Linked DNA regions of Homo sapiens: region 1 is linked to region 2. The links come from fine-mapping of genetic effects on gene expression. A gene starts in region 2. The other region holds a variant in brackets. All regions are shown on one strand. Distances are between the middles of the regions.

Region 1 (15,560 bases), 44 kb after region 2:
AATTTTTGAGCAAATATTTCCAACTCTACGAATCTGCCAGCAAGTATTTATAAACATTCATTCAGTGAATATATGCCAGCTATATTTTAGGCATGTGTTAAGTGCTAGCATTAAGCATAATACAGAGCTCTTTGGGTTTATAATTATGATTTAGAAAAACAGGTTATTGGAACAGTAATAAAATTAATGTGGTAACTGGTGATAGGGGAAGTAAGTATCCTGTTTAATGCTGCCCCATACCACTAATTTGTCATTATACTATTTGTGTCCAAAAAATTTTCCCTAGGAGAATGTACATATGTAAAAGTATATCACAGTACCTGTTTTCTGTGCTCTGAATGTGGTCATTTTCTCCTAGCAAGTGAGACTAGGGTAAACTGGACTGTACTCTCTTGGTTCATGAGTGTTAGTAACCTATGCTCTTTAGCCTGGAAGCTTTCTACTTCACCATTCTGAGTTGAAAATGGCATCTCTTGTTGTTTAATTTGGGTTCTGCTGAAGTCTTTTGACCCTTAATGGCCAATAAAATATGATAATGATAGTCTGGACTTAGAGCAGAAATAACAGTAACAACAACACAGGAAATAAATTACACTGGACATGGCAGAAGAAATAATATGCAGATTAGCAGGCAACTGGGGATTGATTAAAGTCTTTGCATGTTGTGGAGGATATTCTGTACTTGATGAGAGACCTGATTGAAAGTTGCACAAAATTTCAAAAACATGTCAAATTTGAAGGCTATACTGGGAAGACTCCCTTAGAGCTCTTACTAGGTTTATGGTTCCAGAAAGGCTTCCTAGGCACTAATTGCATTGGTCCTGCTAATTGGAGTTTGTGTATGTTGAGTGCTAGGAGATCATATAATGGGAAGACCTTAGAGCAAACCTCCAAGAGTATGTGACTTCTAATCTGTTATCTGAAGAAATAGTAAGGGTTAACCAGGCAAAAGGATATGGGGATGAGGAATGTGAGTCTTCTAAGAAGGATAACAACTGACTAGGGATATCATAGGAATTCTTGACATAGTCAATTTGGATAGTAGCTATACAGTTAATCACAGGGCAAAGTACATCTGCTTACTGTGTAAAAGACGTGACCTATTTAGCTATACGTACTTACATTGAAATAAAGAATTATTTGTCTATATTGTATTGCAAGCCACTAATTTCTTTAGACACTATCATAGTGTGGCAGTGCTATAGATGTATATTTTATCTTGTTTTGATAATAACCAAAATTATGATGAATTGAACTTTAGAAAATATATCTGAAGATGTGGTGAAATGGTTTGCAGTTTATTGTTTTGGGAAATTTGTAATTTTATATATCAAATTTATAACACTATTAAAACATCGTATGATAGTCTTTTTCATAGTATAGTGTTTTAATGAGTTTTGAGGTGTTCTAATGAAAGTGTACAAACCATCCACATGATTAAAGGTAGTTAGCAGCAAAGTGACTTTTAGTCCATTCTGTGATTATAATACAGTTCTCTCTGAAGAAGATTGGATGGGACTAAAGTTGCTTGAAGTAGTTTTGACTTGCCAAGAAAGTGTGAGTGTGCTAGTCCATCACAGTTGCCCCTTAGGTGATGAGGTATTCATCCTATAAAAATGTGTAGATTTATTTGCTAGTAAATAGTTTCAAAGTATTTGAGGTCTGTTAATATTTCCCATAATCCATTCCAGAGTAGGAAGTTTGGGGATTAATTGTGTTATCACTGACTGTTGTTTCATTTTTTAAAGGATGTTTTATATCTGTTTCATAATTCAGATTCACACCCTAAGCGTCAGTTTCTTTTTCCCATTTCCATGAGTACTTTTTAAAGTGTATTTCTTGTACTTAGTTTAATAATTATATAATGTGTTGCCTTTTTTTCTTTTAGGAAAAAAAGCTTTTATAAAGTATTTATTTATTGATTTATTGGTTGACTGAGACAGAGTCTGGCTCTGTCGCCCTCGCTGGAGTGTGGTAGTGCAATCTTGATTCACCGCAACCTCCGCATCTGGGGTTCAAGCGATTCTCGTGCCTCAGCCTCCCAAGTAGCTGGGATTGCAGGCGCACACCACCACATTTGGGTAATTTTTGCGTATTTTTAATAGAGATGTGTGGTAGTGCAATCTCGAATCACCGCAACCTCCACCTCTAGGGTTCAAGTGATTCTCGTGCCTCAGCCTCCCAAGTAGCTGGGATTGCAGGTGCACACCACCACATCTGGGTAATTTTTGTGTATTTTTAACAGAGATGGGGTTTTACCATGTTGGCCATGCTGGTCTTGAGCTCCCGACCTCAGATGATCCACCCACCTTGGCCTCCCAGAGTGCTGGGATTATAGGGGTGAGCCACCTCACCCAGCCAAAAAACTTTTATAAAGTATTTGTATCTCCAATTTAATTGCAAACTTGATGGTTTTATGAATTCATTTGATTTAATGTTATGTTCAATAAAGATTTAAAAATATTTCTTAGATTTTAGTTTAATAAAGTTTTTAAGATACTAGTGAGGGACTTGGCTTTTTTAGGCAAATGGAATTTTAAACATGTAAGCTAAATAATTTTTTTTGCCTTTTTTTTTTTAGTGAATTAGTGCCATCTTACGATTCAGCTACTTTTGTTTTAGAGAATTTCAGGTAAGAGTTTTTGACAATTCTGGTTTTTTTGTATGTGTATATAAGGAAGAGCCAGAAAGGTATTCTTTGGTAAGACAGTAATCTAGTGAACTGTGTCACTCACTTTAGAAGTCTTAGAAGAATAAGTTTCCTATTAGAAATGTAGAGATAATTTGTGCTGGATTATATTGTATCTTTAGACTGACTGCTTCTCTAGTCTGGGAAAAGGAACCTTTTCTTTTTATTTTGAGACTGGGTTTTGCTCTGTCACCCAGGCTGGAGTGCAGTGGCGTGATCATTGCTCACTGCAGCCTCAACCTCCTGGGCTGCAGCAATCCTCCCACCTCAGCCTCCCAAGTAACTGGGACTACAAGCGTGTGCCACCACACAGATGGGGTCTCACTGTGTTTCCTAGGCTGGTCTCAAACTCCTGGGCTCCAGTAATTCTCCCACCTCAGCCTCCCAAAGTGCTGGAATTATAGGCATTAGCCACGGTGCCCTGCCCAAAGTGAGGAACCATTTTAAATAAGAGAGATCACTTAGCTTTGACTAAGGTGGGGGGCTGGACAGTTAGAGGTTGATGAGCCCCCTCTTACCTATCCTCAGAAATAAAAGTGCTGGGAAGAAATCCATTGAGATCCATTTATCTCAGCTCAAAGTGAAGAATTGTGGATAAGGGGCCATTATTGTAAGAAATGTGTAGGCTTTGTCAGTTGTATGTTAATTTTGTTAGCTTTTACTACTTTTTCTCTTAAGATCAGAAGTGAAGATCGTAACATGCAAAGGTTCTTAGCAATTTGTCTTTGAGGGCAGCATGGAAGTGGAAACAAGGACTATAAGGTCTTCAGGAGAGAAACTCCAAATAATAGGCAAAGGCCATCAAAATAAGGCCACACTGGGCAGGGCATGGTGGCTTAAGCTTGTAATCCCAGCACTTTGGGAGGCCAAGGCGGGTGGATCATCGAGGTCAGGAGTTCAAGACCAGCCTGGCCAACATGGTAAACCCCGTCTCTACTAAAAATACAAAAATTAGCTGGGCGTGGTGGTGGGCGCCTGTAATCCCAGCTACTTGGGAGGCTGAGGCAGGAGAATTGCCTGAAACCGGGAGGTGGAGGTTGCAGTGAGCTGAGATCGTGCCACTGCGCTCCAGCCTGGGCAACAAGAGTAAAACTCTGTCTGAAAAAACTCTATCTCAAAAAAAAAAAAAGCCACACAGAATTTATCCCTCTTCCCATTTAATTTGTCTTTTCTTAGGGTTACTTTTGTGGCTAAAACATAGTCTCTTTGAGGTTTTTCCCACACGTATTAAGGTTTAGTGTACTCTTGTTCTTCAATATTAAAAGATGATTATACTGCAGAGAAGCGAGGAAGAAACATTCTGGGTTTTGTTTTATTTTTAATGGTGAAGACTGCTTGTTGAAGCATTAATTAATTTTGGGAGACTTGGTGATACATTCCTTTTCCCTTAAATGTCACAATTTTGAGGGTTTTTTTTCCCCTGAAACTTAAAAGATATTGCTGAATATTTCAGTATCTTTAAATTTTCTTTATTTCAGGATGTAAGCATATCTAAACTTTTACAGTGGAATTTTGACCTGTTCAGTCACCTTGTTATTTGTCTAGGATTTCAAGTATGTAACAAAGAAACTGGTTGGTCTTTCTTTTTGCCTGTTGCCATTTCACAACAGTTTTGATCTTGGGATTTGGTTGGTTTTCTTTTTCGTTAGCACTTTGCGTCAGAGAGCAGATCCTGTTTACAGTCCACCTCTTCAAGTTTCAGGACTTTGCTGGAGGTTAAAAGTTTACCCAGTAAGTTTTTCATATTTCTAATAAATTTTGAAACCAAGGTCTTTCTTTCAGAGTTCTGTAGTATACTAATTTGATTACTGAGAACTGTTAACTCTTCTTTTTTTTGTTACATATGCTGTCCGCATTCCCTGTTCCCCTTCTTCCCCCATATTAGACAACTGTTTGTTTGTCCACACCTTGTTCTCTAATACATTCTGCTGGAAGGCCTATTGGAAACAATGTTCCCTGAGTTCTCATATGTTGAAAACAGTTTTTGCCTTTTATATTCTAAGGCTAGTATTGCTGGATATAAAATCCTTGGCTCATATTTTCTTTCATTGGGTATCTTCAATATGCAATTCCATTTTCTTTAGGAAAAGTCTGATAATAAACTAATTTTCTTTACCTTTAAAGATGTTTGGTGATATTGCCTAGATGCTAAATAATCTTTTTGAGTCCAGTAATTTACTATTACACATTTTAGCCCTCCTGGGTTAGTATTCTCAGTTACACATTGAAGTCTTTCAATATGTAGTTTCAGATTATTTTTTTTTTTTTAGAAAAGTTTTGTATAATGGCATTACACAATAATATATCATCTTTTATGTCTGGCTTTATTCACCTAGCTGATGAGTCATTTATTCATTGATATCTACTGAGTGATTATCATGTCGAACCTCAAAAGTTGCCTCAGGTCCTTTCAAGCAAAGTAGACTAAAAATGAAGGGGTTAATAGTACTTGTACCTCTCTGTAGTCATATCCCAGTAGACACTGGAGATGTATAAGGATCTCTGTTGTCAGCCTTCATTGTCTCGTTGGGGGAACAGATGTTTAAACAAGTAGTTATAATAAATGTGATTCTTTTAAAACATAGACACCTGAAGTACTAGGGAAATACATAGGAAGTAATTCTCTTTTTTTAAAAGAGTCTTGCCAAATTAAACAAAAAGGGAGGGAGTAATTATCTTTATAAAAATAAAATCTATAGTAGAGATTTAAACAACTTCTCAATCTCTAGACAGAATCTTATATGGAATTCTAATATTAAAATCATATAGAAATTATATTTAATTACTTTCAGCATAGGGTATTACCTTTTTGTATGTTGGTCTTAAAAATTAATTTTTGGTTTAAAATTTTTTTTTGCTTCACTCATTTCTAATGAAATTATTTTTCCCATTAGGGTCTTGTTTTTTTATTAAGGTTGATTTGTAAGAGTTCTATATATGTTAAAACTCTTAACCTTTGTTGTGGTTGTTGATATTTCCCTTCATTTTTGTGCCTTAATAGTTTCACTTTTTTTTTAATGCACAAAAGTTTAAAGTTGTTAAGAACTCAAATCTATTGGTGTTTTTAATTATTTCTTCCATTGCTTTGAGGCTTAGAAGTACTTCTCAATCTAGATATCAGATATTATCTGCATTTTGTTTTATTGTGGCTTAATTTTTTTACACTCAAACTGATTATTCTTCTTTTAGGATGGAAATGGAGTTGTGCGAGGTTACTACTTATCTGTGTTTCTGGAGCTCTCAGCTGGCTTGCCTGAAACTTCTAAGTAAGAAGTGTAATTAAATAACAACCTTAATGTGCATTTACATACCTTCCCCCTAGCAATTTTTGTTAATTTTTATTTTTGTTAATTACTGTATTGGTATGTCTGTTAAGATGTAGAATAATATGTTCTTGGCATCATAGGATGGTATTTTTCTAAAAACAAAATATTTTTAAGAAAACTTGTATTGCTTTGCGTTTTTAGAAATCTCTTTACTATCTGGCTTAGAAGAAGACTACTGGATTCTCATGTCTGCTTTTATATTCAATTTTTTTAAAATATCATTTTGATTGAAATACATGTATGAAATCTGTCTGCAGAGTTCTACAACCATCACCAACATCTAATTTTATAACATTCTATTTACTCCACAAGGAATCCCTGTACTCCTTAGCAGTCACTTCCCATTCCCCGTTTCCCTCAGTCCCTGAGAACCACAAATGTACTTTTTGACAAGGAGGAATATTTTTTAAAGTGGTTTTAGATAATTGTGGATCTTCTTTGATATTACATCCAAACTGAACAAGTGGTAGGTTGTTAAATGTTATTTACAATGTGGGATCTGGAATCATATTAATGATTTTTTTTTTTAACTCTGTTACATGAAATCTGTTAGTTTAGTATGGAATGTCTGCTTTCAGCTAACATGAAGCAAGAGGGATGAGATCTACCCATTTTCCTGCAACAACCAAAAAAAAAAAAAGACCTCATGAAACAACATTTTCTAGACACTGGACATGGTGGTAACAAATGAAAGTAGTCCCTGAGAGATGAGAAACACAAACTAACTCTACAATTTCTCCAGCTTACAGCCTTGAGAGAGTTTTCAGGCTGCAACACAGGGAGGAGCTGGGACTGAGGGAGAATCTGGCAGACTTAGTTGAGGGGATAGTGCTGAGAGTCTAGAAAGGACAATACAGCTAGAGCGCATTGGACAAAATACCAGAGAGGAGAAAGCTGCAGAGACTGAAGTCTAGAGATCCGTAATGGGTTCCCCTTGAGTATTCAGCAGAGTACTTATCAGGGCATATGTCTGAGGAAACTACCTGAGATTGGGGAAAGAACTCCTTGACAGGATTAGAGGGAATAGTGAGTGACTGGTGTTCACACGGGGCCAGGAACTGTGTCTATTGCAACCTGCCACGGTGGAGAAATTTATAATTCATGGGTCACTGATTGGGTATAACACTAAGGAAGTTTTTGTCTCGATAGCAGAAATTAGCCCTAGACTGAACACTGCTCTGGACCCACCTAACAAAAGTGAGA[C/T]CTGAAAGGATCAAATTGTTTTCAAGTAACTTAACTGCATCCCAGAAGGAAGCTCAAGAAAATTTATAAGGTTGCTGAAGTATCTAACATCCAACAGAGTAAAATTTACAGTGTCTTGTGTTCAGTCAAAGGTTAATATGCCAGACTGGCTGGCCCATACCTGTAATCCCAGCACTTTGGGAGGCCAAGGCAGGAGGATTGCTTGAGACCAGGAATTTGAGACCAGCCTGGGCAATATGGTGAGACCCTGCATACGTCTCAGCTACTCAGGAGGCTGAGGCAGGAGGATTGCTTGAGCCCAGGAAGTCGAGGCTGCAATGAGCTGTGTCCGCACCACTGCACTCCAGCCTGAATGACAGAGTGAGACCCTGTCTCAATTTATTTATTTACTTAATGTATTTTGAGTCTCACTTTATCACCCAGCTTGGAGTACAGTGGCATGATCTCAGCTCACTGCAACCTCTGCCTCCCAGGTTCAAGCAATTCTCCTGCCTCAGCCTCCCAAAATAGCTGGGATTACAGGCATGCACCACCACGCCCAGCCAATTTTTGTATTTTTAGTAGAAACGGGGTTTCACCATATTGGCCAGGCTGGTCTTGAACTCGTATCCTCAGGTGATCCGCCCACCTCAGCCTCCCAAAATGCTGGGATTACAGGTGTGTGCCACTGTGCCCGGTCAAGAATTCTTTATATATTTTGGATACTAAACCTTTATCAGACATATGATTTGCAAATAGTTTCTCCCATTTGGTAGGTTTTCTTTTCATTTTCTTGATAATGTGCATTAATGCACAAAAGTTTATAGGCTATCTTCTTTGTCTTTTTGTAAACCTGAAAATTTTACAAGATTGGATATATAAATTAGAATATATTGGCTTTCCCAATGTATACTTCTTTTCTTTTTGAGACAGGGTCTTGCTGTGTCACTGAGGCTGGAGCACAGTGGCACAATTATGGCTCACTGCAGCCTCAACCTCCTGGGCCCAGGTGATCCTCCTGCCTCAGTCTCCCAAGTAGCTGGGACTACAGGAATGCACTACCGTACCCAGCTAATTTTTTTGTTTTTTGTTTTTATGGAGACGGGGTTTCGCCATGTTGCCCAGGCTGGTCTCAGACTCCTGGGCTCAGGCGATCTGCCCACCTCGGTCTCTTAAAGTGCTGGGATTACAGGTGTTAGCCACTGTGTCCAGCTTACTTATTTTCTTTTTCCTTTTTCTTTTCTTTTTAACTTTTATTTTAGGTTTGGTGTTACGTATGAAGGTTTGTTACATAGGTAAACTCATGTCATGGGGGTTCATTGTACAGATTATTTCATCACCCAGGAATTAAGCCCAGTACCCAATAGTTATCTTTTCTGCTCCTCTCCTTTTTCCCACCCTCTGCCCTCAAGCATACCCCAGTGTCTGTTGTTTCCTTCTTTGTGTTCATAAGTTCTCATCATTTAGCTCCCACAATATAAGTGAGAACACGTGGTATTTGGTTTTCTGTTCCTGTGTTAGTTTGCTGAGGATAATAGCCTCCAGCTCCATCCATCCATGTTGCACAAAAAACATAATCTCGTTCTTTTTTATGGCTGCATACTTATTTTCTATTAGGAAATTTTATAGCCTTTGATTTTCTGAATACACAATAATTTGCTTTCTTATCACTTGTACTGGCAAAATACAGTAGAGTATTTCAAAATTTATATTTTAAAATTGCAAGGTGATAAACCTCAAAGGATAATAGAAATAACAATATTTATGAGGAAACATATGTAGTGAATATATGGAAAAAATATTGCATTAGTAAAACAAAAGCAACTTTGAATTACTTGTTTATTCAAAATTTATTTATTTTTTGAGGTGTTGTTTTATACCTGATATATCGGTAAACATCTTTACGAGGAAAAAAGGACCTATTGCCATTCATGTTTTGGTGGTTCGTTCAAAATACTGCTGTTTTGGCTGGGCGCAGTGGCTCACACCCGTAATCCCAGCCCTTTGGGAGGTCAAGGAGGGTGGATCATCTGAGGTCAAGAGTTTGATACTAGCCTGTCCAACATTATGAAACCCTGTCTCTACTAAAAATACAAAAAATTAGCTGGGCATGGTGGTGTGCACTTGTAATCTCAGCTACTTGGGAGGCTGAGGCAGCAGAATCACTTGAACTGGGGGGCAGAGGTTGCAGTGAGCTGAGACCCCGCCACTGCCCTCTAGCCTGGGCTACAGAGTGAGACTCTATCTCAAAAAAGCAAACAAAAAAATACTGCTCTTTTTCTGGCCGGGTGTGGTGGCTCACGCCTGCAATCCCAGCACACTGGGAGGCCAAGGTGGGTGGATCACCTGAGGTCAGGAGTTCAAGACCAGCCTGGCCAACATGAACCCCCGTCTCCACTAAAAATACAAAATTAGCTAAGCATGGTACACGCCTGTAATCTCAGCTACTCTGTAGGCCGAGGCAGGAGAATCACTTGAACCTGGAGTCAGAGGATGCAGTGAGCTGAAATTGCACCATTGCACTCCAGCCTGGGCAACAAGAGTGAAACTCCATCTTAAATAAATAAAAAAACCCCAAAATACTGCTGTTTTTATAAATGATAAAAGAAATGTAACTGCGTATATCAATAAGGTTTCTTCTCAGGTAATTACTTAGTGACCTTAATGTTTAGATGAGTTTGTTTTTTATTCTTACTTTACTAACTGTATAGTAATGGTCTGTTTTTCAATTTTAGATATGAATATCGTGTAGAGATGGTTCACCAGTCCTGTAATGATCCTACAAAAAATATCATTCGAGAATTTGCATCTGACTTTGAAGTTGGAGAATGCTGGGGCTATAATAGATTTTTCCGTTTGGACTTACTCGCAAATGAAGGATACTTGAATCCACAAAATGATACAGTGATTTTAAGGTAACAGGAAAAATTTGATGTTGTGGTTTTTATTGTGGGGAAATAATATCATCAGAACTATATTTCAAAGATCATTTGGTTAACAAAGATGAATATTGAAATTCATACTAACTATAACCTTATCACCTTTTTTTTTTTTTTTTTTTTTTTTTTTTTTTGGAGACATAGTCTCGCTCTGTCGCCCTGGCGCGATCTCGGCTCACTACAAGCTCCGCCTCCCGGGTTCACGCCATTCTCCTGCCTCAGCCTCCCGAGTAGCTGGGACTACAGGCGCCCGCCACCACGCCTGGCTAATTTTTTACTATTTTTAGTAGAGACGGGGTTTCACTGTTTTAGCCAGGATGGTCTCGATCTCCTGACCTCGTGATCCGCCCGCCTCGGCCTCCCAAAGTGCTGGGATTACAGGCGTGAGCCACCGTGCCCGGCCCCTTATCACTTTCTTAACTGTTTTATTTAAGTGGATAATAATCAAAAATTTGTAGTCAAAAAGTCAAACTTTTTTTGACATCTAGTTAGCAATTCCATTAAAGATAAGCTGGGTGCAGTGGTGCGCCGGTGTTTCCATCTACTATGGAGGCTAAGATGGGAGGACGGCTTGGGCCCAGGAGTTTGAGACCAGCTTAGGAAACATTATGAGACCCCCCATCTTTTTAAAAAGAAAAAAAAAAGGGGGTGGGTGGGAAACTACAACTTCCAGTAAGTATAGTAATGTTCCATTTGTCTGTTGAACTTCTAGTGACCTCACCATTTGGAAATCTAAGAATAGTGAGGGATAAAGTGCTGATTTTTTTCACTTCACAGTGCATATTATATTTGAGTGACTGGTTTTACAACTTAATTTTATAAAGCAACTATCAGTTCTTTGTCAATAACAGCAAATTAAAAGTAGAAGAGTCAAGATGAAAGTTGACGAAAACCAGCAATTTTCTACTTTTTTCTTAAACTTTTATTTTAGGTTCAGGGGTACATGTGTAGGTTTGTTATACAGGTAAACTCACATCATGGTGATTTGGTGTACGGATTATTTCATCACCCAGATACTAAGCCTAGTACCCAATAGTTATTTTTTCTTATCCTCTCCCTCCTCCCACCCTCCACCCTCAAGTAGGCCCCAGTGTCTGTTGTTGTTACCCCTCGTTATATCCTTGAGTTCTCATCATTTAGCTTTTTTTTTTTTTTTTTTTTTTTTGAGATGGAGTCTCCCTCTGTCGCCCAGAGGCGACATATCGGCTCACTGCAAGCTCTGCCTCCCGGGTTCACACCATTCTCCTGCCTCAGCCTCCCAAGTAGCTGGGACTACAGGTGCCTGCCACTGCATCTGGCTAATTTTGTTTTTGTATTTTTAGTAGAGATGGGGTTCCACCGTGTTAGCCAGGATGGTCTCGATCTCCTGACCTCTTGAGCCTCCTGCCTCAGCCTCCAAAGTGCTGGGATTACAGGCCTGAGCCACTGCGCCCGGCCCATTTAGCTCTTAAATAATAAGTGAGAACATGTGGTATTTGCGAAAACCATCAATTTTTTTTTTTTTTTTTTTTTTTTTTTGAGACAGAGTTTCTAGTTGCCCAGGCTGGAGCGCAATGGCGCGATCTTGGCTCCCTGCAACCTTTGCCTCCCAGGTTCAAGCGATTCTCCTGCCTCAGCCTCCCGAGTAGATGGGATTGCAGGCACGCGCCACCATGCCTGGCTAATTTTGTACTTTTAGTAGAGATGGGGTTTCTCCGTGTTGATCAGGCTGGTTTCTAACTCCCGACCTCAGGTGATCCACCCACTTCGGCCTCCCATAGTGCTGGGATTATAGGCATGAGCCACCACGTCTGGCCAAAACCATCAATTTTTATTGTTGATTGTTGGTGTAGTATTTACAAGAAAGGATAGAACGTAAATACTGACTCAAACAACAGCCCTATTTAGCCAGGTGTGGTGGCTCACGCCTGTAATCCCAGCACTTTGGGAGGCTGAGGCAGGCAGATCACTTGGGCTCAGGAGTTTGAGAGCAGCCTGGCCAATATGGTGAAATCCTATCTCTACTAAAAATACAAAAATTAGCCGGGCTGTGGTGGCACGCGCCTGTAATCCCAGCTACTCAGGAGGCCAAGGCAGGAGAATCGCTTGAATCCGGCAGGTGGAGGTTGCAGTGAACCGAGATTATGCCACTGCACCCCAGCCTGGGCGACATAGCAAGACCCTATCTCAAAAATAATAATAAAGTAAATAAAAACAACAGCCCTGTTTAACGTGGGGTAGTCTTTACAGGTCAGAAGTTTTTGGGCATTGGCTGGGTGCCGTGGCTCACGCCTGTAATCCCAGCACTTTGGGAGGCTGAGGTGGGTGGATCACCTGAGGTCAGGAGTTCAAGATCAGCCTGGGCAACATGGTGAAACCCTGTCTCTACTAAAAATACAAAAATTAGCTGGGCATGGTGGCAGGCACTTGTAATCCCAGCTACTTGGGAAGCTGAGGCAGTTGAATCGCTTGAGTCCGGGAGGCAGATGTTGCAGTGAGCCGAGATTTCACCAGTGCACTCCAGCCTGGGCGACAAGAGTGAAACTCCATCTTAAAAAAACAAAAAACAAACAAAAAAAGGTTTTTGGGTATCATTACATGATGTTATAATTTGATGATCAAAATAAGAACTTGAATATTTAAAAAAGATTAAAATATGTTCTGAACTGAGAAGTTTCAGAGTATTTAACAGTTTAAAAAGTTCTCATCACAACAATTTTAAACATTTTTTTCTTGAGAGTGATTTAATGTACTCCTGAATTTCCCTTATTCGGAGCTCTTTGTTCTTGAGCATACTGGACAGATGAGTTGCTATCATATCAGCATTTACTCTTATGTGTTTTCCGTAGCTTTTCTGGAAGTATAAAGAAGTTTAACAAGGGATATGATTTTCAGTGTAGGGAAAAAGATATGTTTTTGTTATTGTTTTGTTTTGTTTAGAGTCAGTGTCTTGCTATATTGCCCAGTCTAGTCTAGAATTCTCGGGCTCAAGTGATCCTCCTGTCTCAACTTCCCAAGTAGGTAGGATTACAGGTGCATGCCACGGTGCCTGGAATCATGTTTTTTGAGGGGAGGGATTATTTTAGTTTTCTTCGTATAGCTTTTCAGACTTTTGGGGTTTAACTATTCACCAAGAGAAATAATTTATTGCTATTTCATGCTTCAGCCATAGAGAGAATTACAAAATTATTCAAACATCAATTTTACCAACCTATAAAAGACCCATTTTCTTATAGCCTTGATTTCATCCTTATTAGCGTTACTTATTAGTACAGAAACAAATTCCTGTTATGACATCATTTTTTTTAAGCAACATTGAGTCTATACCATATGCCTGACACTGAGTTGCTAATAAGAAAAATATAGACATGGTTTTTGTCCACAGGGAACTCAAGATGAAATTGGCAGATAAAAACAGAATTTACTACTCTCTTATTATAAAATAATGCTATAGTAGCACCGTAAGTAAATTGCTATGAAGTTTGTGGATAGGGGGCTTCACATTATCCTATTAATGAGACATTGCTCAAACTTTAAACCTTTTATTTCAAGATTCTGGTGGAATTTTGTATGTATTTATTAGAAAGTTATTTAAGGCTTTTCTATAACTATGAATGTATGTTTCATTCTTTCATTAAAACAGAAAGTTAAGAAATTTTACCTGCTGCTTGGTTTTGTTTTAATGGCAAAATATTAGAACTAATGTGCAGAGTTAACCAGTGGTTTAAATCATTCAAAGAAAATAATAGTGTTTAGACGGTCTTACTTTAATGTCTTACCAGTGGGTACTTCCTAGACTGTGAATCGTCTCTGCTCAGTTGAGTGAATCATCTCTACTCAGTTCCGTTCAGAACGTAATTTAATCTCTTGATTTGATTTGATTTGATTTGATTTGATTTGATTTGATTTGATTTTTTGAGACAGAGTTTCGCTCTGTTGCCCAGGCTGGAGTGCAGTGGTGCGATCTCGGCTCACTGCCACCTTTGCCTCCCAGATTCAAGCGATTCTCCTGCCTCAGCCTCCTGAGTAGCTGGGATTACAGGCGCCCGCCACCATACCCGGCTAATTTTTGTACTTTTAGTAGAGACGGGGTTTCACCATGTTGGCCACGCTGGTCTCGAACTCCTGACCTTAGGTGATCTGCCCACCTCGGCCTCCCAAAGTGCTAAGATTACAGGTGTGAGCCACTGTGCCCGGCCAATCTCTCTCTTTTTTTAATACTCAAGTTCTCATTTTGATCATCCAGTTATAACATATAATGATGCCCAAAAACTTCTGACCTATAAAGACTATCCCAACATTAAATAGGACTGTTGTTTTATAGTCAGTGTTTATGTTCTGTCCTTTCTTGCATTAGTATTCTTCACTAAAACTAGATATCTACTGCCAGATAACTGTTAAATGGTCAGTAGGTTCTTACAATAAGGTGTAAAATCCTAGAAAAAAATGAACAGCTAACATTGTGTAGCCGGGTAAAAGGGCTGGAAGGAATGAGAGAGATGTAGATGTCCAAATTAGTCTTGCCTTGTGGTTTTTCCTTTCTTCAAAAACACCTTCACACATGCACTGCAATTTTTTCACCTTAAATATAGTCACGTTAGGCTATGTAACAAAGGTAGAGGTTTGTTTGCTTTAGTAATAGTTTTTTTTTTTTTTTTAATTAAAACAACTCTGGATAGATTAAGATTCTGTCATTTATATATTAATACGATTTTATGTAGGTGCAGTACTTTTTTTCCTAACCTAAGCTGAAATAATGCCATATTGTAATAAGGGCAGTTTTGATTGCTATCTTGAAGGGTTCAGGATATAGTTTATTTAGAGCATGTAACTCCTTGGGGGATAGTAAAGCAATCCTGGGTGGTTGAGCCAGGAAGTGATTTTTTTTCTGAGGGGCAGGAAATACGGGAACGTGAGATGGAATAGAGAAATATAAAGAGCAGCACTTAAAACTTTGTATTTTGCTACAAAAAATTAGCCGGGCGTAGTGGCGGGCGCCTGTAGTCCCAGCTACTTGGGAGGCTGAGGCAGGAGAATGGCGTGAACCCGGGAGGTGGAGCTTGCAGTGAGCCGAGATCCCGCCACTGCACTCCAGCCTGGGCGACAGAGCGAGACTCCGTCTCAAAAAAAAAAAAAACTTTGTATTTTGCTGGGGCCTCATTTAGGGAAGAAAGGGATAAGAGTTATCTTCCTCCTTATAGGAGGAAACTGCATAGTATATGGCTCTCTTCTTCCCAACTCATGATCATCATTGTATTTTAGTTACATTATTATAATAAATATGCCTGAGTAGGTTAGTTTGGGAAGCTTAACTACAATGTACAATGTTATTTCTTTAGAAAGGTAGTTTGAGGACAACTGGCTTTTCAGAACCTTGTGTCATAATCTGTGGACTACATCTATAAACAACAAATACTAGCAGCTCTAAGTTTATGTGAATTTTGG
Region 2 (14,987 bases):
TTTTTTTGTATTTTTAGTAGAGATGGGGCTTCACCATCTTGACCAGGCTGGTCTTTAACTCCTGATGGTGATCCACCCACCTCGGCCTCCCAAAGTGCTGGGATTACAGGCATGAGCTACCGTGCCTGGCCCCCTTTTTTTTAATTACAGAGAAATAAGTTACACCTTAGTATCAGATATTAATTTTCTTCAGTGTTCAGGCAATTAGTATTTAGAAAGCTCTTGTCATGAGATGGCTCTGGGATGTGATGATGATTGTTGGGATTGAAAAAACGGTAGTATCATGGAGAGATCATAATAAATTCTTAGTATTAAAAGTGGTTTTGCTTTCAGTTAGGGAGAAAAATTAGATTGTACTATTTTTCCTCTATGATTTCCTTCAGTTATCTTCCAAATGTTGTTTTTTCCCCACAGCCCCCTTAACATTGTTCTCTATGCACTTCTCAATACATTTTCATTTGTTTCTCAAGCCTCTTTGTGGATGACTCCTAAATATAACTTCTTCCACTAGCTCTAGATCCGTATTTCCAATAAAATCCCCTACCTGAATATTCAAGTTAAACATGTCCAGAATACTTACTGATTTTATTGTTAATAGCCACTATTCTGTTGTCTGGAATTAAAACCTGTATAACTAATTTGCATCCCTTTATCTTCTTAGTCAATAAAACCTACAATCCTCTTTCTAAAATGGTCATAGTATACAACCTCTACATTATCTTCACACCTCCTTAATTTAGATCTTTTGTTTCTCATTTGGATTATAATTGTTTTCTCCTATGTGACTATAGTGTCTTTATGTCTTAAGTTATAAATAATACATGTTTAAGAATTTAAAAATCACAGGCATGGCCGGGCATGGTGGCTCACGCCTGTAATCCCAGCACTTTGGGAGGTCGAGTCGGGCAGATCACAAGGTCAAAAGATGGAGACCATCCTGGCCAACATGGTGAAACCCTGTCTCTACTAAAATTACAAAAATTAGCTGGGTGTGGTGGCACGTGCCTGTAGTCCCAGCTACTCGGGAGGCTGAGGCAGGGGAATCGCTTGAACCCAGGAGGCGGAGGTTGCAGTGAGCTGAGATTGCGCCACTGCACTCCGGCCTGGCGACAGAGTGAGACTCTGTCTCAAAAAAAAAAAAAACAAAAACCCAAAAAAACAAAAAAAAAACAACAACAAAACAGGCATATAAATTATCTAGAGGTAATCTGCAAATAATTGCTTCAGGCATTTCTACATGTATACAAACTAAAAAAAATTTTTTTCAACAAAAGTAGGTTGATACTATGCCTTGTACTGCTGCTGTACTTAGATTTTTTTTCATTTCATTATTTTATTTGAGAGAGGGTCTCGCTCTGTCACCCAGGGTAGAATGCAGTGTTGCTATCATGGCTCACTGCAGCCTCCAGGGCTCAAGCAATCCTCTTGCCTCAGCCTCCCAAGTAGCTGGGACCACAGATGCATGCCACCAACCCCTGCTAATTTTTGTATATTTTGTAGGACTTGGTTTCATTATGTTGCCCAGGCTGGTCTCCAACTCCTGGGCTCAAGAGATCTGCCAGCCTCAGCTTCCCAAAGTCCTGGGATACATGAGCCACTGTGCCCGGTCTTCAATTCTAATATATTTTTGTTATGTCACACATCCACCCTTCTTTTTAACAGCTGTAATCCATTATATGGCTATACCATACTTTTTTTTTTTTTTTAATTTTAGACAGGATCTGGCTGTGTTGCCCAGGCTGGAGTGCAGTGGTGTGATCTTGGATCACTGCAGCCTCAAATTCCTGGGCTCAAGTGATCCTTCCATCTCAGCCTCCAGAGTAGCTGGGACCACAGGTGTGCACCACCATGCCCAGCTAGATATATAGTCATTTTTATCAGTTCCTTAGTGATAGACATTTAAGCTCTATAACAGCAAGTTATACAAATAATATAACAAGTAAGTTGTATAACAGCAAGTTATTTAAGGATATGTATGAAGTTAGGAGATTTTTCTTGTGGGGAGGGCAGCAAGGTCAGCCTTTAAGGGATTCTGATGGAGCAGACCGTTGGCTCTCAAACCCCAGGGCTTGGCAAACGATGTGAGTTTAGCATCTTGCCAACTAAATTATTTATTTTGCTCAAGTTATCCTTTTTGCTTGCAACCAACGGCCTCTAATCAGCTGTACAGGTTTCTAATTGTTCGCTATTATGAATTGGTGCAATAAGTCCTTCGACATTCTTAGGTTCTTCGGCAAACATACAAGAATCTTAACTATTTATCATGTAAGTATTGCAATTTGTCTTATTTGTCTTCTGTACTGCTCCTTGAGAGCAAGGGCCACTTCTCATTACTCTGAATCCCAAGTACAGCATTGCATTTTTTTTTTTTTTTTTTTTGAGACGGAGTTTCACTCTTGTTGCCCAGGTTGGAGTGCAATGGCGCGATCTCGGCTCACCGCAACCTCCGCCTCCTGGGTTCGAGCGATTCTTCTGCCTCAGCCTCCCCAGTAGCTGGGATTACAGGCATGCGCCACCACGCCCGGCTAATTTTGTATTTTTAGTAGAGACGGGGTTTCTCCATGTTGGTCAGGCTGGTCTCGAACTCCCGACCTCAGGTGATTCGCCAGCCTCGGCCTCCCAAAGTGCTGGGATTACAGGTGTGAGCCACCACGCCAGGCCTAGCACTGCATTCTATAAATAATTCTTTTAAGTAAAATTCTCATAATATTAACCATCAACCATTTAAAAATGTACAACTGAGGCCATTTTCGTAAAAATAGCTCCATGTAGGTCAAAGACCACAAATAATTCTTACTGAAAGAATTTTTCAGTCTCAGATTAATCTTTCTAAATTATATCTTGTTCATGACCCAAGTAGTTAAAAAAAATTGTTGCTACCCACCACCTATAAGCCTAAATGCCTGATATTCAAGAACTTATTTCTAGATTATTAGTGATTCTCTACATGTGCACTCTAGGTCGGTTAAGTATAATTAGTTGTTTGCAATAAATACAGGAAAAATTAAATTCAAATTACGAATTTGATATGCCCTCTTTGTCTCACAAACCTTCAATTCTTGCAATCTTTACACATCTGGCAGGAAACTGTAGAAAGCAGATCCCATTTATAGGAAAGATGAATATCGCTGATACCCTTTCAATAGTCCCACGGCGACAACTTAGGCGGCAAGAATGAAGTGTGGGATGTGGGAACGAAGACTTCACAGTGTGTGGTCCCGTCCTCTCACCACCGTAATGAGAAATGACACCTCAGTTTGGAGCCTTCTAACTCGATTAGCTTTGGTAGGTGGAACGCAAGTCCTACAAACCTTAGACTGTTCCTTCCAGAGAGAACCACTAACCATGAACCTTCTGCACCAGGGTTTCTCAAAGTGCGGGCCACAGACCACCTGCTGCCGAATCACACGATGCTGGGTGAAAACGCGGATGGCCTGGGCCCCACCCTGGAATCTCAGAGTCCGAATACTTAACTACGGGTGTGGCTCTGAAGTCTGCGCTTTCCACCAGTACGCCAGGTGGCTCCGTCTTTGGCGCGCAAGTTTGAGAGCCGTGGGGCCCCGCCCTCCGCCAAGGTGGGCGTGGGTGGCGTAGCAGAGCCCCAAGCTCAGGCCGCCTGCGCAGGCTAGGGCCGGAGGCACGCAACCCTGAGGCAGCGAGTCGCCAAGTCTCGTATGCGCCCCGCAACGCGGGAACTAGGCGATCGCTCCACGCTCCTCCCCTCCTTTCCCCTCCCACAGCGTCCTGCGCGCATGCGCTTCGCAGCTTCTCTCGCCGCCGCGCCCCCAGCTGCTCTGGTTACGGTTGGTGTTTGCGAATTCTCTGCGGCACCTTCTTCGCTGAACTCCACCGTCAGTTCCATAGGCGCGCGCCCGCGTCACGTGGGCCGAGGTTCCGGCGCGGCTGCTGGCCGGCGGCTGAGCCGGGAGAAAGGAGCTGCGGCCACCGTTCGCCCTACTTCTGCGCCTCGGGGCGGGCGCGCCGGTAAAAATGGCGAAATGGGGGTAGGCGGCGCTGGACCTGAAGAGATGGGGCGCGCAGGTGGGGCGGTTGTCAGAGCCCCCTGACGTGGGCGCCGGGCTTTTATCGGCGATTTGATCTGGCGACCTCGGGCCGGCGCCTAAGAGGTCAGACTGCGGAGCCTGCGGGTCGCCAGCGGCCCCGCCGAGAGCCGGAGGCAATGGATGAACAGAGCGTGGAGGTGAGGGGGTTGTGAGGGTGGTGGTTAGTCCCCGCCCCCACCCGATGAGCGGTTTTTATTCGGGGAGTCGTGCCCATGTCCTCCCTCCAGTAGGGCACCCCTACCCCGCCCCTGCCGCTGTGGAGAGGGCTGGCCCGGTACCAAGGATGCCGTGCCCATTCTGCAGCGCTCCGGGTGTCTTGTGCTCACTGTTCCGCAGTCAGGTGGTGCGTATCCTGGAGTTTTCAAGGATGTCTTGGCACAGGTACTCATCCCCACCGGGTGTTTGCAAACAGCATCCTTTTCCGACCAAAACTGCAGATTCATCAGATGGATGTACCCTGCCACTCGCCACCAGTCCTTGCGAGTTCTTGAGCTGATCTAAATCTCCTTCCAAATGGATAGTCATCTTTCCCTCTCAGTGGCACATTTTGCAGGCTTCTGCCCTTCCTTCCTAGATTGAATCAGCATATATTATCTCATGTGTAGTTTCCAGAACAAACTCTTCTTTTTATAACTGATTCTTGTAAGCTGTGAGTTAAAATAGTTGGGATATGTAGGATATGTAAGTAAAGGCTAGGAATATATTTTAAAAGATTGTTTATTGAACATAATTGTGTAATCATTATCAAATTTTGAACCTTTCAGATACTGAAATAGGAAATCCTTGCTTTTTAGTAAGGGGTAACTATGTTATGGATATTCCACTTGAAACTAGTCATTCAGTAGTCTTATTGTCCACCCCGTTGCAGGTTACAGAATCTGCATCTCCCAGGTTCTTTCTGGCCCTACAGAGTCATGATGAGATTAATGAGTAATTTTCTCCTTAATTCCTCATATAAAGTATTATAAAGGTTTTGTAAACTTATCTTGGTTTTAGGAGGGTTTAATTCTAGAATGGAGTGAAAGTAAATGTCAGTAATATAAAAACAAAGTATACAATACAATAAGTATACGTTTAATTGTATCCTTTTTCTTGTTAAAAACTTTTCAGTTACTTCCTAAATTGATTAAATTGAGGCTTGCAAACATAATACTGTTTCTTGTATTTACATATTTTTGTTGTTGTTGTTCCCAAGATCGCTTTGAACTACCGTCAACATTTTCAATTGGGGCAGAATCTCAGGTTCAAATAAGTAGCTAGTCTGTTGTAACATCAGGGCAGCAATTCAGATTTCTGGATTCTGAATTCATTTTTTTCTGGGTCACAGTACACTGCCTTTAGGATGTGTCTTTTTAAACTTCTTTTTCCTCTAAATTATAAAATCAGTTTATACCTTTTGGGGAAATTGCAGAAAAAGTTAAAAGTTCATGTTGTGTATTCAGTCATATAGTCTGCCTTTTTTCCTTTTTTCTTTTTTTTTTTTTTTGAGACAGAATCTCACTCTGTCACCCAGGCTAGAGTGCAGTGGCACCCTCTTGGCTCACTGCAACCTCCGCCTCCTAGGTTCAAGCAATTCTTCTGCCTTAGCCTCCTGTGTAGCTGGGATTACAGGTGCACACCACCACGCCTGGCTAATTTTTGTATTTTTAGTAGAGACGGGGTTTAACCATTTTGGCCAGGTTGGTCTCGAACTCCCGACCTCGAGTGATCCACCTGCCTCAGCCTCCCAAAGTGCTAGGATTACAGTAATGAACCATCATGCCTGGGCCTTTTTTCCCTGCTGTTATACATTATATGCATTTTTCTATATCATTAGATGAAGAAGTATTTCTGGTGACTGTAATCTATGTGTAACTGCCATAATTTACTTAATATTTGGACATTTGGGCTGTACCTAGATTCTTGCCATTATAATTACTGCTTTAGTGAAAATTTTTCTGCATGTCTGTGTTTGCATTTCCTATATTTTCCTTAGAATAGAATCATCGTGAAACCAAACGGGAGTACATTTTCCAGATGTTTTGAGGTACTCTGTATCTTGACCAACCAAATCCTGATATGGAATAGTTAAAATTGAGAGATCAGCCCAAAATAAATGTAAATGTCAAGTTGTTTTGAGCTTGCCTTTTACTCTTGATTCAGTAGCCTAAACTGGTGGACCTTACATCTTTTACTGTTTTCAGAGCATTGCTGAGGTTTTCCGATGTTTCATTTGTATGGAGAAATTGCGGGATGCACGCCTGTGTCCTCATTGCTCCAAACTGTGTTGTTTCAGCTGTATTAGGGTAAGTTGTATTTCTTTTTACATGCAGTTAGTATATATAGTATATATTGTAAGGATTAACCATTTCCCTTATCTTTTTATTTTACATTTTTTGCCCTAAAGTGCTTGCTTGCACTGTGCTTGGGGTTGAGGAATACTAAGATAAATGACAAATTGCCTGCCTTGAAGGAGCTTAAATCTAATTGAGGGAATGGAGTTTAGAATGTTTATTTTGAAGAATGTGCGGTATCATAAGGAGGCACTAAAGAAGTGCTGTGGGGCTCAGAAGAGGACTGGTTTATATGTGTTTGGTGAGTAAGATAGAGAAAAAGTGTTTAATCTTACAATTACAAGACACTCTAGAGATGAATATAATCTAGTGGCTTTAAAACTTGAGTGTTGGTGCTTTGGGAGGCCGAGGTAGGTGGATCACGAGGTCAAGAGATCGAGACCATCCTGGCCAACATGGTGAAACCCTGTCTCTACTAAAAATACAAAAATTAGCTGGGCATGGTGGCATGTACCTGTGTCCCAGCTACTTGGGAGGCTGAGGCAGGAGAATTGTTTGAACCCGGGAGGGCAGAGGTTGCAGTGAGCCGAGAGAGCGCCACTGCACTCCAGCCTGGCGACAGAGTGAGACTCCGTCTCAAAAAAAAAAAAAAAACTTGAATGTTGGCCTGAGCGCGGTGGCCCAGGCCTGTAATCCCAGCACTTTGGGAGGCCGAGGCGGGTGGATCATGGTGTCAGGAGTTCGAGAACAGCCTGACCAACATGGTGAAACCCCATCTCTACTAAAAATACAAAAATTAGCTGGGCATGGTGGTGTGTGCCTGTAATCCCAGCTACTCAGGAGGCTGAGGCAGGAGAATCGCTTGAACCCAGGAGGCGGAGGTTGCAGTGAGCCGAGATCATGCCAGTGCACTCCAGCCTGGGTGACAGAGCGAGACTCTGTCTCAAAAAAACAAAAAACAAAATAACAAAATGAGGAAGTCCAAGATTTTGGTTGTGTATGCGAGAGTCCAATAGCACATCTACAGAGCATAGTTGAAAACTGCCTTGTTCACATTCCCCTTCAATTATTTATTTTCCTGAGAAAATCAAAGAGGTCACATGCTCTTCACCTCAAACTTTCTGTTTCAGCTGGGCGCAGTAGGTAGCTCACGCCTGTAATCCCGGCATTTTGGGAGGCTGAGGTGTGTGGATCACCTGAGGTCAGGAGTTCGAGACCATCCTGACCAATATGGTGAAACCCTGTCTCTGCTAAAAATACAAAAATTAGCCAGGCATGGTGGCATGCTCCTGTAGTCCCAGCTACTCGAGAGGCTGAGACAGGAGAATCACTTGAACCCGGGAGGCAGAGGTTGCAGTGAGCAGAGATGGTGCCACTGCACTCCAGCCTGGCGACAGAGCGAGACTTCGTCTCAAAAAAAAAAAAAATTTCTGTTTCCTTATTCTTGCCTAAGGAAGATACATATGCCTTTGTCAAGAGTATTATCCGTAACACTTAAATAATTTTTTTCTAGTCACACAGCTCACAATTGATGGTACTGGATTTGAACCCATTAAGTTCAAGAACTCTATAGCCTGTTCTTTGTCACTGTACCATGCGCAGAAGACCCAGTTAAATATGATGTTAGTTCTCATACTTCTAAAACTAAGAGATTCACTCTTTCTTGGCCTTCTTTCTTCAGCTGTAGAATTCAGATATGATTTGCTTTACAGGGTGGTTATGGCATTAAATGAGATAACCTAAGGAGTAATTCAGAAATTATGAAATACTATATCTACTTGTTTGTAAGGTGTTATTTTATTGTTAAAATAGCAACTAATACACATTAACACTTACCCATGTTTTAATAAACAGTGAAACTGATGCTAGATAAATTAAGTAATTGGACTCCGTTATAGTTAATTAAGTGGTAGAATCTGGATCTGGGCGCATTTCTTTTGATGAAGGTCCCATGTGCTTATGGTCTCTGGTTGTTACCTTATGCCTCATTGATTCTGTATTTTTTCATTGTTACATCTTCTTCCTCCTGCCCCTTAAATGCATTTATTTCTTAATTTCCTAAGATCTTGTTGCTGTCGTTCTCTACTCTGAGGTTTCTGGGAGTATTCACCTACTTTGGGAAATTTGATTTACTTTAGCAGCTTTAGCTATCATCTCTGTGTGTATGGCTCCTAAATCTATTCCTTCAGCACTGACTTTTGGATGTCTTGTCCTTCTAGCATCTTGAACTTTGTTCAAGATCAGATTATTCATATTATTTTCTCAAACCGATTCTAAGTTCATTCTTTTTGTTCTGTTCTGCTAGTCACTCAAACTGGAAACTTTATACCAATGATTTTTTTATTTTTTATTTTTTATTTTTTTTTGAGATGGATTCTTGCTCTGTTGCCCAGGCTAAAGTGCAGTGGCGTGATCTTGGGTCACTACGACCTCCGCCTCCCAGGTTCAAGAGATTTTCCTGCCTCAGCCTCTCAAGTTGCTGGGAGTATCAGCGCACTCCATGATGCCCGGCTATTTTTGTATATATATATGTATATATGTGTGTGTATATATGTATATATATAAACATGTATATGTATATATGTGTGTGTGTGTGTGTGTGTGTGTGTATATATATATATATATATTTTTTTTTTTTTTTTTTTTTTTGTAGAGATGGGGTTTCACTATGTTGCCCAGGCTGGTCTCAAACTCCTGACCTCAACTGATCTTCCCTCCTTGGCCTCCCAAAGTGCTGGGATTACAGGCATGAGCCGCTGCCTCTGGCCTATACCAATGATTTTTAAGTGCAATTAGTTATTATCTCCCTGTTTCACTTATATTTGTCTTACCCTTCTGTTTTTATCATTACCATGCTAATAGAGAAGTATGAACATTGGTTACCTCATGCTTAGATTATTTAATTACTTTCTGTCTGATCTCTCAGGTTTGAGTCTTTTCTTATCTCCAGTCCATTTTCTGTCCTGCTACTATATTAATATTTTTCACTGATATCTCTTTCTTTTCCCCAGAAGCCTCAGAAATGTATTATGTAAAGGATAAAATCCAAGAATGTTAGCCTTGTGTTCAGACCATCCAGATCTGGTTCTGACCTTTCTTTCTAGGGCTGTCTTGGTTCCTGAATGCACTAATCATTTGTTCATTCATTCAGCAAATATTGATTGCTTGCCTACTTGTTTTCAAGCCAGTCATTTTTTATTAGGTATAACTGACATGCAGTAAACTACACATATTTAAAGTGTACAGTTTTTTTGTTTGTTTTGTTCTTTTTTTTTTTTTTTTGAGACGGCGTTTTGCTCTTGTTGCCCAGCCTGGAGTGCAATGACGCGATCTCCGCTCACTGCAACCTCCATCTCCTGGGTTCGAGTGATTCTCCTGCCTCAGCCTCCCAAGTAGCTGGGATTATAGGCATGCATCACCACGCTTGACTAATTTTGTATTTTTAGTAGAAACAGGGTTTCACCATGTTGGTCAGGTTGGTCTCAAACTCCTGACCTCAGGTGATCCACCCACCTCAGCCTCCCAAAGTGCTAGGATTACAGATGTGAGTCACTGAGCCTGGCCAAGTGTACAGTTTTGACATATATGTATTCTTGTGAGACAATCATTGCATCCAAGTTAGTGAATATATCTGTCATCCCCAAAAGTTTCCTTGTGCCTCTTGGTAATTCCTCCCTCTACTTGCCTTGTCCCCAGGCAACCATTGATCTGCTTTCTGTCACGATAGATAAGTTTGCTTCAGAGATAAGGGGGATGGAAAAAGAGAAAAAAGATAAGTTTGCATGTTTTGGAATTTTATACAAATGAAAATCATACAATATGTACTCTTACGGATCTGGCTTTTTTTCACTCAGCAAAAATACTGTATGTATCAGTAGTATTCCTTTTTATTGCTAAGTAGTATTCCATTGTATGTATTTACCACAATTTGTTTATGCATTCACCTGTTGATGGGCATATGGCATGTTTACAGTTTTTGCTATTACAGTGAAAATTGCTGCGAACATTCGTGTACAAGAAGCTTTCTTTTCTCTTGGGTAAATAATTAGTAATGGAACGGATAGAGATTATGTGGTAGATGTGTGTTTAACATTTTGAAAATTGCCAAGCTATTTTCTAAAATACTTGTATCTGGGAGCTAAACAATGAGCATACATGGACATAAAGGGGGAAATGCTAGACACTGGGGACTTCAAAAGAGGGAGAGGAGGAGAGGGATGAAGGTTAAATTAAAAAAAGGATTGGGAGGCCGAAGTGGATGGATCACCTGAATTCGGGAGTTCGAGACCAGCTTGACCAACATGGAGAACTCTGTCTCTACCAAAAATACAAAATTAGCCAGGCCTGGTGGTACATGTCTGTAATCCCAGCTCCTTGGGAGCCTGAGGCAGGAGAATCACTTGAATCCAGAAGGCGGAGGTTGTGGTGAGCCGAGATCGCACCATTGCACTCCAGCCTGGGCAACAAGAGCGAAACTCTGTCTCAAAAAGAAAAAAAAGGAAATAGTTTTATAATTTTACATTCTCACCAGAAGTTTATGAGAGTTCCAATTCCTCCACATTAATGCTAACAGTTGGTGTGTTCGGTTTTGTGAATTTTAGCCATTCTCAGGGACGTGTAGCCATTCTTACAGGTATCTCCTTGTTTTAGTTAGCGTTTCTCTGTTGAGTAATGATGTTAGCATCTTTTCCAGGAGTTATTTACCATCCATATGTTGTCTTTGGTAAGGGGTCTGTTCAGTGCCCCCCATTTTGTGCTAAAATAAATATAACAAAATTTTCCATTTTACCCATATTTAAGGGTACAGTTCGGTGTCTTTAATTACATTCATAATGTTATACAACCATATCACTATTTCCAAAATCTTTCATCACCCCAAACAGAAAGTCTGTACCCATTAAAAAAAAAGAAAAAAGAAAATAAACATAAGTAAACATAGAAAAGGTATATTAAAAATACAGTATAAAAGATAAAAAATGGTACACCTATGTAGGGCAGCTCCATTCTAATCTTACGAGACTACTGTAGTATATGCGGTCCATCATTTACCGAAACATCTTTATGTGACACATGGCTATATACCACTTTTTGTTTATCCTTTTTCTTAAGTTTTTTTGTTTTTTGAGACAGAGCCTCGCTCTGTCGCCAGGCTGGAGTGCAATCGTGCGATCTCGGCTCACCACACCCTCCACCTCCGAGGTTCAAGCGAGTCTGCTGCCTCAGCCTCCCGAGTAGCTGGGACTACAGGTGTGCGCCAGTACACCCAGCTAATTTTTGTATTTTTAGTAGAGATGGGGTTTCACCATGTTGGCCAGGATGGTGTCGATCTCTTGACCTGGTGATCCACCCTCCTTGGCCTCCCAAAGTGCTGGGATTACAGGCGTTGAGCCACCGCGCCTAGCCTATTTATCCATTTTTATCTCTTGATGGACACTTGGGTTGTTTTCACTTTTTGGATATTGGATATTGTTAATAGTTCTGTTGTTAACAATTATCTGTTTGAGTTCCTGCTTTCATTTCTTTTGAATATATATCTAGAAGTGAAATTGCTGGGTCATATGGTATTCTGTTAATTTTTTTTTAATTGTGGTAAAATATACCTAATGTAAAATTAGCCTTTTTTTTTTTTTTTTTTTAAATGAGACAGTGTCTCACTCTGTTGCCCACGTTGGAGCACAGTGACACAATCATGGCTCACTGCAGCCTCAATCTCTTGGGCTCAAGCAGTTGGCCTGCTTCACACTCTTGAGTAGCTGGGACCACAAGTGTGTGCCATCGTGCCTGGCTAATTTTTTTATTTTTTGTAGAGACAGGGTTTTACTTTGTTGCCAAAGCTGGCCTCAAACTCCTGGGCTCAAGTGATCTGCCTGCCTTGGCCTCCCAAGTGCTAGGATTACAGATGTGAGCCACTTGGCCCAGCCAAATTTGCAATTTTAACTGTATTTTTAAGTGTACTGTTTAGCGGCATTAAGTACATTCACATTGTTGTGCAGCCATCACCACTATCCACCTTTAGTACTTTTTCATCATCCCAAACTGAAACTCTGTACTTGATAAACAATAAATTCTCATTATTCTCTTCCCCCTAGCCCCTGTTAACCACTATTCTACCTTCTGTCTTTACATTGACTATTCTAAGTACATCATATAAATGGAATCATAAAATATTTTTGTTTATTTCTACCTCTCTATTCTGTTCTATTAGTCTCTATTTCTGTTCTTATGGTAGTACCACACTGTTTTGATTACTGTAGCTTTGTAGTAAGTTTTGAAATTAGGAAGTGTGAGTCCTCCAACTTTTTCAAGATAGTTTTGACTATTTGGCATCCCTTGAGATTCCATGTGAATTTTAAATGCAGTTTTCTACCAATATAAAAAGTACCATTGGAGTTTTAGTAGGGATTACATTGATTCTGTACATGCCTTTGAGTAATATTGCTGTCTTAACAATATTAAATCTTATGATCCTTGAACATGGGTGTCTTTCCATTTATTTAGGACTTCTTTAACTTCTTTGAGCAGTGTATTGTAGTTTTGCACGTATAAGTCTTTCTTTTTGTTTTTTATTGTTTTGAGACAGGATCTCACTGTCACCCAGGCTGGAGTGCAGTGATGCGATCATGGCTCACTGCAGCCTCAACTTCCTGGGTTCAAGAGACCCTCTTGTCTTGGCCTCCCAATGCTGGGATTATAGGTGTGAGCCACCACACTCAGCCTCCATGTATGTCTTTCAAATTCTTGGTTTTTTTTTTCCCTAAGCATTTTATTCCTTTTGATGCTGTTGCAAATGTGTTATTTTCTTAATTTCGTTTTTAGATTGTTCATTGCAAGCTTATAGAAATGCCAGTGTTTTTTGTGTGTTTGTCTCCTGTAACTGTTGTGTTTATTAGCTTTAACAATATTTTGTGGACTCTTTAGGGATTTTTACAGATAAGATCATGTCATCTGCAAAAAGATAATTTCACTTCTTTTTTAATTAGGATACTTTTTATTTCTTTATCTTGCCTAAGTACTCTGGCTGGAATTTTTAGTACCTGTATTATGTCAAATAGAAATGGTAAAAGCTGGCATCCTTGTCTTTTTCCTGATCTTAAGGGGAATTTTTCCTGATCTTAAGGGGAAGAGTTTTTAGCCTTTGAATCGTTGACTATGATTTTTATGAGTTTTTATATATGGCCTTTATCAAGTTGAGGAAGTTCCCTTCTATTTCTATTGAGTATTTTTATCATGAAAGGATATTGGATTTTGTCAGATGCCTTTTCTGCATCAATTGAGATGATCATAGTGGGGGTTTTCCATGAAGTGGTTTATTACATTGAATGATTTTTGTAGTTGAATCATCTTTCTATTCTAGGAATAAATCCCACTTGGCCACAGTGTATAATTTTTTAAATAGTCTGTTGAATTAGTTTTATTGGGATTTTGTTGAGGATTTCCCTAGCACAATTTCTCTAGTAAATATCTTAAACTCCCAGACCACATATACATTAAAATTTTTCATATAGCATTATGAATGAGGATGCACAGTACATGTCAATAATGATATCTCTGATTATATTCTGAAGAAATGGAAGGAATTTAATAAATACTTATATTTTTAATTAATTTCAAATGCAGGATTAGGCATTGGAAATAGTATTTAATCAATCATGAGCCCATGATCTAAGATTTTTAATAATTGCTGTAATTAATGTTTCTTAAAGACCTTGTTTTCTGTTACAAAGTTGGTTTTTTTTTTTTTGTTTTTTTTTTTTTGAGACAGAGTCTCACTGTCACCCAGGCTGTAGTGCAGTGGCACGATCTTGGCTCATTGCAACCTCTGCCTCCTGGGTTCAAGCGATTCTCCTGCCTCAGCCTCCCGAGTAGCTGGGATTACAGGCACCCACCACCATGCCTGGCTAATTTTTATATTTTTAGTAGAGGCGGGGTTTCACCATGTTGGCCAGGCTGGTCTCGAACTCCTGACTCCAGGTGATCCACCCACCTCGGCCTCCCAAAGTATTGAGATTACAGGCGTGAGCCACTGTGCCCGGCTGATGTTTTTTTTTTAAACTCTCTTTTTTTGGTCTCCTGTTACACTAACAGTAATTTTATTTACCATCTGGCTTATTTAGTTCTGTATGCTAGATAATTAATATATACAATCTTTATGATAATTACTCATTCTTACAGGTTTTTGGAAATGAACAAAAGGACAGCTTTTCCCTTTCTTTGGTAGACATACCATAAGAAGTGGACTTTTGTTATAGTTTAGTGGTATAGATGTTTGTAAGAAACTATTTTAGTCTGGGCACAGTGGCTCATGCCTGTAGTCCCAGCACGTTGGGAGGCCCAAAGATGGAGGATTGTTTGAGCCCAGGACTTCAAGACCAGGCTGAGCAACATGGCAAGATCCCATCTCTGCAAAAAAAATTAAAAAATTAGCTGGATGTGGTGGGCACACCTGTAGCCTCAGCTACTTCAGAGGGTCAGGTGGGAGGACCTCTTGAGATGAAGAGGTTGAGGCTGCAGTGAGCTGTGTTTGGGCCACTGCTCTCCTGCCTGAGTGACAGAGTGAGACTTGTCTCAAAAACAAAAACAACCCCAGAAAGTATTTAGCATGTTTTTGTATGTATATATAGTTTGCCTCAAACAGTACATTAGGGGATGT

The links. PIP is the estimated chance that this variant, and not a neighbour inherited with it, causes the effect.
Region 1: its variant is fine-mapped to the expression of TRIM37 in whole blood (INTERVAL, PIP 0.96).

The regions. Positions count from the first base shown.
Region 1 is chr17:59,051,427-59,066,986 of GRCh38, reverse strand. TRIM37 (tripartite motif containing 37) reads left to right here. Exons shown (of 24, transcript NM_015294.6): 10 at 2,582-2,632; 11 at 4,339-4,420; 12 at 5,879-5,955; 13 at 9,933-10,112. It also overlaps the pseudogene RN7SL716P. Among named protein-coding and RNA genes, the nearest start is that of TRIM37, 48 kb to the left of the region's middle. The variant C/T (reference allele first, on the strand shown) is at 7,219.
Region 2 is chr17:59,095,655-59,110,641 of GRCh38, reverse strand. It overlaps TRIM37 (tripartite motif containing 37), which reads left to right and starts at 3,762. Exons shown (of 24, transcript NM_015294.6): 1 at 3,762-4,201; 2 at 6,248-6,349. The coding sequence starts at 4,181. It overlaps SKA2 (spindle and kinetochore associated complex subunit 2), which reads left to right. Exons shown (of 4, transcript NM_182620.4): 4 at 1-785. It overlaps LOC124904039 (a long non-coding RNA gene), which reads right to left and starts at 3,546. Exons shown (of 2, transcript XR_007065864.1): 1 at 3,051-3,546. RefSeq lists enhancers at 3,239-3,318, 3,359-3,408, 3,779-3,878, 3,355-4,014, 3,969-4,098 and 2 more and a silencer at 3,539-3,648.